Homo sapiens: one gene and its partners. The protein of the gene in region 1 purifies or fractionates together with the protein of each later gene. This does not show direct contact. Each region holds a gene or a part of one and is shown in the gene's direction. Other genes may lie near its edges.

What was found. The genes of interacting proteins can lie anywhere in the genome.
Region 2: the proteins of NXPH1 (region 1) and PRPSAP1 purify together in Homo sapiens (affinity purification with mass spectrometry; one large-scale study listed by BioGRID and IntAct). This does not show direct contact.
Region 3: the proteins of NXPH1 (region 1) and GPR107 purify together in Homo sapiens (affinity purification with mass spectrometry; one large-scale study listed by BioGRID and IntAct). This does not show direct contact.
Region 4: the proteins of NXPH1 (region 1) and KIAA0319L purify together in Homo sapiens (affinity purification with mass spectrometry; one large-scale study listed by BioGRID and IntAct). This does not show direct contact.

What each region holds. Positions count from the first base shown.
Region 1 is NC_000007.14:8,432,475-8,436,408, forward strand, and holds the start of NXPH1 (neurexophilin-1 precursor), read left to right. Parts: upstream 1-1,134; 5' UTR 1,135-2,281; intron 2,282-3,129; 5' UTR 3,130-3,239; coding exon 3,240-3,293; intron 3,294-3,934. UniProt on the Homo sapiens protein: May be signaling molecules that resemble neuropeptides and that act by binding to alpha-neurexins and possibly other receptors.
Region 2 is NC_000017.11:76,343,917-76,347,416, reverse strand, and holds part of PRPSAP1 (phosphoribosyl pyrophosphate synthase-associated protein 1), read left to right. Parts: intron 1-1,135; exon of another isoform or gene 1,136-1,688; intron 1,689-2,679; coding exon 2,680-2,746; intron 2,747-3,500. UniProt on the Homo sapiens protein: Seems to play a negative regulatory role in 5-phosphoribose 1-diphosphate synthesis.
Region 3 is NC_000009.12:130,056,906-130,060,405, forward strand, and holds part of GPR107 (protein GPR107 isoform 3 precursor), read left to right. Parts: intron 1-3,500. UniProt on the Homo sapiens protein: Has been proposed to act as a receptor for neuronostatin, a peptide derived from the somatostatin/SST precursor.
Region 4 is NC_000001.11:35,449,404-35,452,903, reverse strand, and holds part of KIAA0319L (dyslexia-associated protein KIAA0319-like protein), read left to right. Parts: intron 1-1,112; coding exon of another isoform or gene 1,113-1,127; coding exon 1,128-1,276; intron 1,277-2,394; coding exon 2,395-2,546; intron 2,547-2,898; coding exon 2,899-3,037; intron 3,038-3,500.

The sequences.
Region 1 (3,934 bases):
AGACACAGTTAGAAGGTGTGCTTCACTGCTTTATTCTGCATATGCCCCAATGAATTCCAGGAGGTCACAGCAGCAGAGTACAACTTTTAAGATTAGAAGAGCTTGCTCTTTAAAGAGTTATTTTTAGCTGGAAGGGAGAGTGTAGACCTCAAAGTGCTGGTAGGTATGTTCTACAGTGGGGATCTAATTTGGAGGTCTTTGGAGATCTGATTCCAGGGGAAGGTCTCAGTGGGGCTCCTCTTGCCTCTGCTGCAGGACTGGGTGGCTCTGCTGATTGTCACTGCCTTGTTTGAGGGGTGGTCTCCATCATCCAGGGGAATTCAGCCTGGGACCTATTGTCTAGAGTGTACATTGTATCTAGGCCCAGACCTGCCAGAGTGTCCACAGCCACACTTGAGGAAAGGACATTCCAGACTCATTAAATATCACAATTCGATTTTGATGTCACTAACTCAGGTTCCTGAGATAAATTTCCATACAATTCCTACAGATTGATATGGATATGTGCATCACCCCAGGAGAGGCTCTGGTGAAGGGCAGGCTTGGAGATGCAATGGGCAAGGTTGGGGAAGAGATACCCTCTTCCGGGTTCCGATTTGTGCCCTGAATTTGGGCAAGCTCAAGGAGCACTGGCAACCCCACCAGCACCAGAAGAAGCTGGTCCTGGCTGTCTCCCGAGACTGGTGAAACTGCTCTGGTGGTGGTGCACTGGAAGGGTGGAGGAAAAAAAACAAAAAACAAAACAGGGTTTGAGGGGGAATGGCAGGGACACGGTAGAGGCACAGAGATACAGAGACCTAGAGTCAGAAATCCTGAGTGAGACACACAGAAAGGCAGAAAAAGGCAGAAAGATGCTGAGGGACAGAGACGCAGACCACAAGAATGACAGAAGAAGGAGACAGAGAGAGAGAGGGAGTGAGAAAGATACTGAGAAATAGGGACAGTAAGGGAGAGACTGAGAAAGACAGAGACAGCCAGAGTCGGAGCACAGAGGCCGAGTCTGGGAGACGCTGGTTGAGTGGGAGGTGTCAGTAGCGAGGGAGGTGGTGACGGCTCGAAGCATCCCCCGTCCTCCTCCTCCCCCTTCACGCTCAGCCCAGCCGGCGGCGAGGAGTCCAGAGGCCAAGGTCGCCCAGTCCTCTCGGCTGTCTCGAGCTGAATGGCTGGCAGTCTGCGGCTCCCCCGCCTCCGGCCCGGCAGCCACAGGTCGGAGGCGCCCGGCGTCGGCGCTCGAGGCCGGCAGGGGCGCCCTGCACCCTCCCGCGCCCTTCCCCGCCCTACGCGACTCCCGGCTGCTCTTCCCGCCACTCCCCTGGGCTTTGCGATCTTCCCTACGCCCCCCGGGAAGGGGGCGCTGCGGCCACCGAAGACACCGCGGGAGCCACTTGTCCCTGTGGGCCCAGCCCGCGAGAGCCTGAGAGCCGGATCTGTTTACACAGGGTACTAATTAGTCTTTGAGGAATCATTCACCCACGTGCCAAAGTAATTGTCCGTGTCAGGAAGGTAGGCGTGCCAAGCCGCGGCTCTGCGGAGAAACCACGACCACCGCGGCCGCCGGAAACCCAAAGCGCTCCAGAGCGTCCCCGGGTGGCCGGGCAGCACCAGGGACAGCGCCCGGGACTCCACTGGGGACCGGCTCCTGGGCTTCCCAGCGTCGCGGGTAGAGGTACAGCTGCTCCGTGTGCCGCAGGCTCCAGATTCTCGCCACCCCACCCCTCCCTCAGAAACTCGGACTGCTCTCGTCTGCCGTGTGGTTCTCTTTTCTTCCGAAAGGCCAGTGTCTTATCTCTCCACTTCAAGTCCAGAGGACTTGCTCAGTCTCCTCCCCTTAAGTCATTTCCACCATCCTCAGGCAGCTGTGGGAAGCCGAGAGTCCTGGACTGTTCGTCCGGGTGCCAGCGCTGGCAGTCCCAGTCCGTCCGGTGCAGCAGCCCGGCGCATTCCCCTCTCTCCCTCCCTCTTGCTCTCCCTCCCTTTCTGTCTTCCTCTCTTTCCTCCTCTACTGCTCCCTCCCTCTCTTGCCTCTTAAGTTTCCTGCACCGTGAATCCAACTGTGCCAAGCCTTGGCTCCCGCGAACCAATCCTGAGCGCGACCCGGGCACTGGGACGGCGACTCCGCCAAAGCTGGACGAGGCAGCCGGACCCGTCTGCGCTCGAGCATGGAGACGGAGCGCCTGGGAGGGCACGTCCGGGGCGCTGGAGACGCCAGGCCCGAGTAGCTTCTCCATGGAGCCTGCCCAGAGCGGTCCCTTCTCGCAGGATTCGCCCCAAGTCCTGTGCGGTACGTACCCTTTGCCTCCGCTGTTCCCGGAGGGTACACCTGGGAGCGGGGTGGTGGGCACGAGGAAGGGACGGCAGGGAGGGGCGCTGGTTAGGAAAGAGAACAAGCCTGGCAGGTGACCCTCACAGCTCGGAGGAGGCTTCTTCTCTAGAAGTTAGCGACCGGCTGTACCCTTTGGCTCGAAAAAAGTAGTGCTAGAGATGTGACTGTGAGCATTCGTGGGTATCTCTGTGTGCGCCAGGGGTTCGAATGGGTAAACTGATCCCTGCTTTCCTGTATGCAAATTGCATTCTCTTTCCCCACCCCCACTTCACCGAACGTGTTGAGGTACCTAGCACCTAATCGCGGTCAGTTCTACCTACCTCTTCCTCTCACCGCGCCCCCCTCGCTCAATCTCTCTCTCTCCCTTTATCTTTCCCCTCTATCTCTCTCTGCTGGTGTGTACGTGTGTGAGCACTGCCAGGGCTGGCGAAGAACCAGCCGCCGCCTTTAGTCCGAGCCGCCGGGCCACCCAACACAAGGGCAGGTCTCGCTGCCGGAGAAGCCTGGGCTCCGAACCAGCCTGCACGCGGCTCAGTGTGCTCCGCCGCCTGGGAACTCGCACCCGAGGAGCGCAGGGGGCAAGGAGCCCCTCACCCTCCCTCTCGTCCGCCCGCCCGCCTCCCCAGCTGCGGACCGCGCGCTTGCTGGTCTCAGGCGCTGGATTTACTCGCTTTTCAATTTTTCGTACCCTCCCTCCCTTTTTTTTTTGGTCCCCCACTCCCCGCTACGACCCCCTTTCCCCGCTTGATTGTCAAGCCTAACCTTGCCCGCGTAGTCATGGGATGTCTAATTTTATTTGCATCTAGGCTGCTGAGAGCGCTCCTTGCTCTGTAAAGTGGATGTCAGGTGGATCTATGTTTCTGAAGGAACAAAGACTCAAAGAAGGCACCGCCAAGGAAGTTTGAGACGCGGGAGAATGCAGGCTGCGTGCTGGTACGTGCTTTTCCTCCTGCAGCCCACCGTCTACTTGGTAAGTCTTGGAAGGTTCGGGGCTTTCGCATTTTTACCCCGGCCGGGAGGCAAGGAAACTGGGGACACGCGGGAGAAGGGTTACGCCGCCAGTTCAGTGAGAGCAGCTTCCTAGCAGCTGTGTTGGAGCAACTTTGGCAAGCTGGTCTCTGGATTCCTGCGGATTTTCCGGGGTTCCCACCCCATTTTCTGCTCCAATCCCCCAGTCTCCTGCGCGTGATTCTTGAAAGGGGCTAGGGCGCCCCAGACACCCTAAACCCAAGGAGGTAGTGAGATGGGGTGCTTTATGTGATAGAGGGCCAACGAGAAGAAGTGGAAGGCAGGAACTCTCAGTAGCTCATGCACAGAGTTTAAACGAAGGGAAGTGGGGGTGTAGTTGGGTGGTGGAAAGAACAAATCTGCCCAGGTCTGTGAGTTTAAAAGTGAATCTACCCACCCACTTCCCCGATTTGGAGATGAGACACATAAAGAAGCGCAGTTAACTTTCTTTGACTTGTAAGGGTTCCGACAGGATAAGTTTAACTATCAGGGGTACTGCAAGCAATCGGAGTTAGGACAGAGATACTCCAGCAAACATGTCCACCTTCCTCTCGTCTCGACCTCCCCTTTTCATCAAATAACTAAATCCCATCTCCAGTGACT
Region 2 (3,500 bases), on another chromosome or scaffold:
CTCCCAGGTTCAAGCAATCCTCTTGCCTCAGCCTCCCAAGTAGCTGGGATTACAGGCATACGCCACCAAACCCGGCTAATTTTGTATTTTTAGCAGAGACGGGGGTTTTGCCATGTTGGTCAGGCTGGTCTTGAACTCCTGACCTCAGGTGATCCACCCGTCTTGGCCTCCCAAAGTGTTGGGATTACAGGCATGAGCCACCGCGCCCGGCCCACTCTGTCTGCTTTCTAAGTGGACTAACTGCCTGCCCCTCTGCTTGGCACACTCGGATCCCACATCTTCCCATGTTCCCAAACCCCCTTCTGCGCTGCTCGTTCTGGATTGCAGTGAGGCCCTTTTTTCCAGCCCCATTGTTCTTTCTCCTTCGTCATGGCTAGCGTCTCTGGCATATTGGGCCCGGAGGGTTTGCTGGCCTTGTTGTTGTATCATCTCTCCTGGGTCAGTCTTTGTCCCTTCTTCCAAGTCCTGCATTTTGGGGTTCCCAGTACAGTTCCTGACATGGAGGAGGCTTCAGCATTTGTTGAAAAAATAATAAGGATGTCGCCCGGGCTGGAGTGCAGTGGTGCAATCTCAGCTTACTGCAGCCTCTGCCTCCCAGGTTCGAGCAATTCTCCTGCCTCAGCCTCCCAAAGTGCTGGGATTACAGGCGGAGCCACCGCGCCCGGCCAAACTCCCTTTTTCAGTGCACAACCAAAAATCAGAAAGCCACTGTAAAACCCAGTGAACATTTAGCATGTTGTTTAACAACTTTTCACAAGCTGACCCTGACTTTCCGGAAGTGAAATGAATATGGCAGAGTTTATCTGAAGATCCACAGTCTAGAAACGGAACTACTGCTCTTTTGAGGGGCGCCATCTCAGTGGCATCACTGGAAGGTCCAGATTGCCTGCCACACTGGTAATCAATTATGGGGGGGTCAGGTGCCAACAGATGTCTGGCTTTAAGGGATTTAAGTCCATGCTGAAAGGTGGAAAGGGAGAAGAGGACATAGAAACAAATTTGTCTTTTCAGAGCACAAGGCTTTTGTGTGCTGAGGTGGCCATGTGTGTCAAAGTCAGGGAGCCCCTCTTCCTGGGAGCCGAGAGGAAGTCTCTCAAAACTAGAAGGGAAAGGTGCTTTCCCCACATCAATCCAGCTTCGGAGACATTCTATTCATGACATATGCTCCTTTCCCCAGAACAACAATGAAGCGTTCTGTGTGCTAACAACATAGCTTAGAAAACAAAAATTCTGCGTTTTTATAAAACTTGATAAAAAATAGTATTTCAAACTGTACAGTCACCAGAAGTACACAGTTATCCAAAATGCACACGCTTCCCTCAGCATCTCCAGCAGGTGCCTGGTGTGTTCAGGCATCTCCACTTCCCATAGAGTCATTCCCCTCCTCGCCAGTGTCAGCTTTTTCCTTTTTCCCTTGGGTACCTTCTCTCCCTTCTTTGCAGTGGCCTTTTTAGGCCTGGGCTCTGGCTTTGGAGGGAGGAGCAGGTTTAGCAGACAGCCTCACAGATCTTCTCTGTGGTTCGTCTTTCACCTTGGCCTCATCTCCCTTAGCATCCCCTTCAGCCTTTCTCTTGGGCATGGTGGCAACGAAAGCAGCCGGACGTAGGCACTGGGAGCGGGATGCAGTGGCGGTGCACGGACTGCGCTCAGTCGGGGGTCATTCTCGCTTCCTCTTCTTCATACTGCTCCAAGACTTATTCTTTTGCCCCAGATAAAATGTTGGTTTAGATTAATCTTTACTCCCTCCAAATGTTTCTAGCTGTTGCATCATGAGTGCTTTGCTTTTCTGCTTTTTTTTTTTTTTTTTCTCCAGACAAGGTCTCTGTTGTCCAGGCTGAAGTGCAGTGGCACAGTTTCAGCTCACACTGCAGCCATGACCTTCCCTGGCTCAGGTGATCCTCCCACTGGGACTACAGGCACTTGTCACCATGTCCAGCTAATTATTTTTTTGAGATAGAATCTCGCTGTGTCACCCAGACTGGAGTGCAGTGGCGCGATCACGGCTCACTGCAAGCTCTGCCTCCCAGGTTCAAGTGATTCTTCTGCCTCAGCCTCCTGAGTAGCTGGGATTATAGTTGTGCGCCACCATGCCTGGCTAATTTTTGTATTTTTAGTAGAGACAGGGTTTCACCATATTGGCCGGGCTGGTCTCGAAGAACTCTTTTTTTTTTTTTTTTTTAATGAGACGGAATCTTGCTCTGTCACCCAGGCTGGAGTGCAGTGGCGCGATCTCGGCTCACTGCAAGCTCTGCCTCCCAGGTTCACGCCATTCTCCTGCCTCAGCCTCCCGAGTAGCTGGGACTACAGGCACCCGCCACCACGCCCGGCTAATTTTTTGTGTTTTTAGTAGAGACGGGGTTTCACTGTGTTAGCCAGGATGGTCTCGATCTCCTGACCTCGTGATCTGCCCACCTCGGCCTCCCAAAGTGCTGGGATTACAGGCGTGAGCCACCGCGCCCAGCTAATTCTTGTATTTTTTGTAGAGACAGGATTTTGTCATGTTGCCTAGGCTGTTCTTGAACTCTGGTGCTCAAGTGATCTGCTTTCCTCAGCCCTCCTAAAGTGCTAGGATTACAGGCATGTGCCACCGCGCCCGGCATGAAGTACTTTTGTTTTTCTTTTTTCTCCTTTTTAACATAGGAGCTTTTCTTAAAACTTCAGAACATTTTTATTTTTCAGAAACAAGAGTTGAAATAAAAGAATCTGTTCGTGGCCAAGATATTTTCATTATACAGACAATACCCAGGTAAGAGGACTGACTACTTTATCTCTTTTCTGTAAAAACCTTAACAATATAATTGATTATCTTTTCATATGAACAACAACTTAGTGTTTTTAAAAGTTATATATTCAGGCCGGGCGTGTGGCTCACGCCTGTTATGCCAACACTTTGGGAGGCCGAGGTGGGCGGATCACGAGGTCAGGAGTTCGAGACCAGCCTGACCAATATGTTGAAACCCTGTCTCTGTTAAAAATACAGAAATTGCTGGCTGGGCACGATGGCTCACGCCTGTAATCCCAGCACTTTGGGAGGCCGAGGCGGGCGGATCACGAGGTCAGGAGATCGAGACCATCCTGGCTAACATGGTGAAACCCCGTCTCCACTAAAAAATACAAAAAAATTAGCCGGGCGTGGTGGCGGGCACCTATAGTCCCAGCTACTTAGGAGGCTGAGATAGGAGAAAGGCGTGAACCCAGGAGGCAGAGCTTGCAGTGAGCCGAGATCGCGCCACTGCACTCCAGCCTGGGCTACAGAGCAAGACTCCATCTCAAAAAAAAACAAAATAAATGAATAAAAAACAAAAGTTAGCTGGGCATGGTGGCATGCGCCTGTAGTCCAGCTGTTTGAGAGGCTAAGGCAGGAGAAGTGCTTGAACCCAGGAGGCAGAGGTGAGCTGAGATCGCGCCACTGCACTCTAGCCTGGGCGACAGAGTGAGACTGTCTCACCAAAGAAAAAAAAAAGTTATACATTCGTTTGCATGTTAAACTAAATGCTTCC
Region 3 (3,500 bases), on another chromosome or scaffold:
CAGAGCGAGACTCCTTCTCAAAAAAAAAAAAAAAAAAAAAAAAAAAGAAAGTTCACAAATTTGTGTTGGGCCGCATTCAAAGCCATCCTGGGCCGCATGCATCCTGGACAAGCTTGTTCTGAGTTCTTGCCCAAGGAAATGGAAATCATTTGAAGAGAGCCTGTCAGAGCAGCAACTTTAGATTGTCTGTTTTGCTTGAGACTGAGTGAAATAGGGTACTTGATCAGATTAGAGACCCATAATGGCAAGGATAACATGAAGAGGTCACTGAGTACCAGGAGTATGCGTTGATCTCTTAAAACCTGGCTGCGCCTGGTAGCTCACACCTGTAATCTCAGCACTTAGGGAAGCTCGTTTGAGGTCAAGAGTTGGAGGCTGCGGTGAGCTATGATGGCGACACTACACTCTAGCCTGGGCGACAGAGCAAGACCCCATCTCAACAACAGCAACAAAAATTAGCCAGATGTGGTGGTGCATACCTATAGTCCCAGCTACCAGGGAGGCTGAGGTGGCAGGATCCCTTGAGCCTAGGAGTCAGAAGCTGTAGTGAGCTATAATGGCTCCAGCCTGGGGGACAGAGTGAGACCCTATTTCTTAAAAAAAAAAAAAAAAAAGACAAAGCAAAACAACCTTTTTATTGTGGAGAATTTCCAATATACTAAAGCAGATAGAATAGCATAATGAACTCCCATGTGCCTGTCACCCTCAATAACCATCAACACATGGCTGATTCTGCCTCATCCCACATACATCAATTTCTGGTTCTTATTTTTTATTATTTTTAAAATTAGAAATGAGTCCTCTTATATTTTTATTGTCTTACTCCATGCTACATTTTCCACCATTCTTCTGGCTTTCCCAGTCTTCTCACAGTCCATCTCTTTTGACTTTTCCCTATATTCCTTGCCTTTTTATTTATTTATTATTATTATTTTTTTTTTTTGAGACAGAGTTTTGCTCTGGCACCCAGGCTGGAAAGCAATGGCGCGATCTCAGCTTACAGCAACCTCCGCCTCCCGGTTCAAGCGATCTCCTGCCTCAACCTCCCAAGTAGCTGGGATTATAGGCATGCGCCACCACGCCTGGCTAATTTTTGTATTTTTAGTAGAGATGGGGTTTTGCCATATTGATCAGGCTAGTCTTGAACTCCTAACCTCAGGTGATCCACCTGCCTCGGCCTCCCAAAGTGCTGGGATTACAGGCGTGAGCCACCGCTCCTGGCTATTTATTATTTTTGTTTATTTTTTTAAAGACCTGTCAGCAGGAAATACTCCTTGCCTTTTAAGAACAACTTTATTGAGGTATAATTTACATACCATAAGATCACCCATTTTAACTGTATAATGCAATGATTGTTAGTAAGTTTACCGAGTTGTACAGCTATGACCACAATCTAGCCACAGAACGTTTCTGTCACCCCATAAGATCCCTTGTGTTGGTTTAGAATCAATTCCCATTCCCACCACTAGTCCCAGGCAGCCACTAATCTACTTTCTGTCTCTATAAACCTACCCTTTCTGGATGTTTAATGTAAGTGGAATCACAGGATGAGTAGGCTTTTTTTCTTTTTTTTTTTTTAGACGGAGTCTCGGACTGTTGCCTAGGCTGGAGCGCAATGGCGTTATCTCGGCTCACTGCAACCTCTACCTCCCAGGTTCAGGCGATTCTCCTGCCTCAGCCTCCCGAGTAGCTGAGATTACAGGCACCTGCCACCACGCTCAGCTAATTTTTGTATTTTTAGTAGAGACAGGGTTTTGCCATGGCGGCAAGGCTTGTCTCGAACTCCTGGCCTCAAGCAGTCCGCCCGCCTCGGCCTCCCAAAGTTCTGGGATCACAGGTGTGAGCCACTGCGCCCGGCCGATAGGTAGGCTTTTGTGCCCATCTTTCTTTCTTTCTTTTTTGAGCTTCGTTCATTTTGTGCCATGTGTCAGTAATTCATTCCTTTTTACTGTTGAATGGTCTTCCAGCGTGTGGATATATCTTCTTTTGCTTAGCAGTTCACCAGTCGATGGATGTTTGGGTTGTTTCCACTGTTTGGCCATTATGAATGATGGTGCCATAAACGTTCACATTGCAAGGCTTTGTGGGGCCATATGTTTTCATTTCTCTTGGATGATATCCAGGAGTGGAGTAGAATTGCTGGGTCATATGATAGATTTATGTTTAACTTTTTAAGAAACTGCCAAACTATTTTCCAAAGTGGCTCTACCATTTTACATCCCACTAGCAATTTATGAGAGTTCTCTTTCTTCACAATGTTATCAGCATTTGTCATTGTCTTCCTATATTATTTTAAAGCATATTGGCTGGGTGTGGTAGCTCATGCCTGTAATGGCCTTTGGGAGGCCAAGGCAGGTGGATCACCTGAGGTCAGGAGTTCGAGACCAGCCTAGCCAACATGGTAAAACCCTGTCTCTACTAAAAATACAAAAATTAGCCGAGTGCGGTGGCGGGCGCCTGCAATCCAAGCTACTGGGGAGGCTGAGGCAGGAGAATCACTGTAACGCAGGAGGTGGAGGTTGCTATGAGCTGAGATTGTGCCACTGCACTCAAGCCTGTGCGATAGAGTGAGACTCCCATCTCAAAAAAAAATAAATAAATAAAGCAAATCAAAGGCATTGCATCATTTCATTCTTAAATATTTTGATATTACCTGTAAAAAATAAGAGCTCTTTTAAGAACATGGCTACAATGCTATTATAACAAAAAAATCCTTAGTATCATATGTCAGATCAGATTCAAATTTTCATTGGTCATAAATGGATTGAAAAAGTTTTGAAAAATCAGGATCTAAGTCACATCCTCATACTGTGATCAGTTAATACGTCTTTTTTTTTTTTTTTTTTTTTTTGAGATGGAGTTTGTTCTTGTTGCCCAAGCTGGAATGCCATGGTATAATCTCGGCTCACTGCAACCTCTGCCTCCCGGGTTCAAGTGATTCTCCTGCCTCGACCTCCTGAGTAGTTGGGATTACAGGCACCTGCCACCACACCTGGCCAATTTTTTGTATTTTTAGTAGAGACGGAGTTTCACCATATTGGTCAGTCTGGTCTCGAACTCCTGACCTCAGGTGATTTACCCGCCTTGGCCTCCCAAAGTGATAGGATTACAGGCATGAGCCACCAGGCCCAGCGTGATCAGTAAATAAGTTTTATTTCGGGGGGAGGTTGGGGGGCGCACGGAGTCTCATCCTGTCCCCCAGGCTGGAGTGCAGTGGCGCGATCTCGGCTCATTGCAACCTCCGCCTCCCAGGTTCAAGCAATTCTCCTGCCTCAGCCTCCTGAGTAGCTGGGATTACAGGCACCCACCACTACGCCCAGCTAATTTTTGTATTTTTATTAGAGATGGGGTTTTGCCCTGTTGACCGGGCTGGTCTCAAACTCCTGACCTCAGATGTTCTGCCCACTTTGGCCTCCCGAAGTGCTGGGATTACAGGTGTGAGGCACCGCGCCCAGCCTATCCATTTCTTATTAATGGAATAAAAATGATAATCCGAGTTT
Region 4 (3,500 bases), on another chromosome or scaffold:
CAAAGGTAGCAACCATAGGACAGCCTGGGTTTTTTTTTGTATTGTGTTTGTTTGTTTGTTTGTTTGTTTGTTTGTTTGACAAAGGCATTGGAGATGGGTGGAAAAGAACTTTAATTTGACTATACAAATGACTTGCTTTTGAGATTGCTGAGTTGGAATCTAGAAATTATTTCCCTCAGCTCTTGTTTTTATCTTTTGTAGAACATAATCTTACCCAGCCCAGGGTGTTTTTAATTATAATTGTTTATTGAAGATATGGCTGATAGACCTTTTAGCTGAGTTTTATTAGTGTTTACAGCAGAGATAATGCTTAGCATAGCTTCTTGAAGGAGACTGTGCTTCAGGAGGAGCTACCAGGATCAGAGGCTGTAACTTTAAAAGGCAAAACAAAGTAAATCCTGGATGTCTGCAGATTTCTCTGGCTTTCCTGTAGTTAAAAGCTCTGGGGCATTTTGATCCTTGAGCAGAGGGCTCTCTGGCTGTGTGCAGCCTGAATGTTGGCACAGAGCTCCCTTGGCTGCTGCAGGCAAGTCTCTGAGGCCACAAGGGGGAAGAAGGGTTGTAGGGTGTCCTAGGTGCTTGATGGCCCCTGTCCAGGAGCTGGAGGGAACTTTGCTTATAGAGTTGCTACAAACAAGATGATTTTGTCCTGAGAGTTCCTCTGCAGTCTTGCCCCATTTCCTTTTCTTTCATCAGGAAGGATTTGGGCACGTGATTAAGAAATGCATTTTGCTTCCTTGCTGGCAAGAGCCAAACCAACTACTGGGCCAGAAATGCTTTTTAGAAACATCACTCTTAAATCATTCTTTTGATCAGAGACTTGCTCAGAGAACTTTCTTCCTTTTACAAACTAGAATGGTAAAGCGTTCAAGTGTTCTAGAAGCTCATATAAAGGATAAGGCTAGAGGTGTTTGAAAGCTATTTGAATTTTCTGACCAGCAGGCAGCCTGTATTTTGAGGCCAAATGACACTTTGTCCAATTGAAATATTTTTAAACATGTCTTGTCAAGGTCTGGGTAACAGTAGTTCGTGTCTTTGCTGAGGGAGTCATTGTCTCCTCCTGCTAAGTTAGGGACAGGACAGCAGCAGACAGGTACAACTCTACCCTCTAGTTTCTTTTTTTGCAGGGGACCTGATGGGGTGCAGCTCGAGAATGCTAACAGCAGTGTTGCTACTGTGACTGGGCTGCAAGTGGGGACCTATGTGTTCACCTTGACTGTCAAAGATGAGAGGAACCTGCAAAGCCAGAGCTCTGTGAATGTCATTGTCAAAGAAGGTACCTCTCTGCCTCCAGTTTGTGTAGCAGCCTCTTAGGGTCAGATAGCTGAAGAATTTATCCTGTCATGTTTGCCTGCAGAAATTGATTAGAGATAGCAAGAGGTGGGTAAGAGGGTTGGGGTGAGGGCAATTGTTATTTTCTTTTCTAAAACAGCCTTTAATTGGACTGTAAGGTGAATTTTAACTTCCCTCCCTCCTCCTGCTTACATCTTCCCTTCCCTCTCATCCCCTTACTTTCTTTTCAGTCCTCCCTCCTTCCCTCCTTACTTTATTTCTCAGTTGAATAGGGAAAGAATTAAGGGTTCTATTCTTTGCATTTTTATTTTGCCCCTCTGCATTGCTGAGACCTGGGCCGTGACTCCTGTTAGCTACAGTGACACCTGCTGTCAGGCTTGAGAATGACGGCCGCACTACAGCTGACTATGCTTGCCCTGAGCCTTTGAGCTGAGGCCAGCCAGAGGCCTTGCTCTAGTTTACAGGCACAGTGACCAGTGAGAGCTGTGGGAGAGGGCCTTAAGTTGAGGGCCTTAAGTTGATAGCAGGAAAAACCATCAGATATGCAGACCTCCAGACATAAGATACCAAGCTGAGTAAATACTGCACAGACATCTGAATATACAGAGCTTCACGTGGGGCTCCGAATAAGAGAGGTAGCTCTTTGTTTTCTCTTGTGAAGTTCCAAGGAAGGGGTCCAAAAAGATATTCAGAGAATAACATTTTAAGATATTTTGAAGGAGAATTTGCAAGATCAGCTAGGTGAAACCTAAACTCCAAGGTTTTAAGCCAGTTTGGGCCGTTATTTCTGATCATCACATACCTCCAAAGCAGAGAAATGGATTCCATTTGGGAAGGCTGCTGGGAGAATATGAGAGGAAAGCACACTCGTCCCCTCTGTTGTACAGTGTTAGGAGAACATTTCTCTGGGTAGGACTGGAACCTCAGGACTGCAGCGCTGGTAGCTTTCATCTACACTGTTGGTTGGTGGCAGGGACAGGCACTTAAAAAGGTTCTCCAGTTAAGGTACTCTTGATGTTTTAATTTCCCCATAAGCATCATGAAGAAACATTTCTTCTTTTCCAGAATGTCACATTATGTCAATGATTTCTTTTTGATTAGAAATAAACAAACCACCTATAGCCAAGATAACTGGGAATGTGGTGATTACCCTACCCACGAGCACAGCAGAGCTGGATGGCTCTAAGTCCTCAGATGACAAGGGAATAGTCAGCTACCTCTGGACTCGAGATGAGGGGAGCCCAGCAGCAGGGGTAAGTGTGCTAGGAGCTGGAGAGCTACACAGGAGTGGGGAGGAGGAGGAGCCACGCGTTCCAGTATATGCTTTAATCAAGTGGTCCCTTATATCAAACCCAGATTGTTCTCTGAAATCCAGGGAGGTGAAGTGACTTGCTTAGGGTCATTCTGTAAGCTAGTATAGCACAGAATGGGTTTCCCTTCCCTGATCCTAGCAGTTGTAGGCTGCAATGCTGTTCCGTATCAGGAACTGCCCAAGGTTGAAACAGTTCAGCCCTGAAGGGCCTAGTTATGGTGAAAGCAGCAACTGACTCCAGGAAAGGAATGGCATTTTGTTCTGTAACATAGCCATGTTGTTCAACCCTACAGGAGGTGTTAAATCACTCTGACCATCACCCTATCCTTTTTCTTTCAAACCTGGTTGAGGGAACCTACACTTTTCACCTGAAAGTGACCGATGCAAAGGGTGAGAGTGACACAGACCGGACCACTGTGGAGGTGAAACCTGGTGAGTTCATTTAGTGATGAGGCTGAGTAGAATTGCTGAATCAGCCAATCAAGGCCTCTATCCTGAGATCCCCTTCCCCGAGCATGGACAGAGCCAGATGGCATGTCCAGCTTTAAAAATAATCGAGAAACCCCAAGCTGAAAAATCCATAGAGACCGTCTGTTCCAATAATACCTCCTACCCATGCAGAAATACAGACCTCCCCCTATTCATCTCAGATGGAGAAACAAACTCAGAGAGGGCAGGACTTGCTCAGTGTCACACAGCAGTTGTGTCAGAGCCAGGCCTTTGTGCTCGTAGTCCAGCACTTTCTCCTCTCCTCGTGACTGATGAGAGAGGGCTCAGAGTGCTTGGGAATCTGAGCATGGGAATAGCTTGAGTCATGATGTCTCATCAGCATCCAGATGCAGAAAACAATTTATTTTTATAAGTTGAGCCTCAGGCCTTGTCTGATAATCCAGGG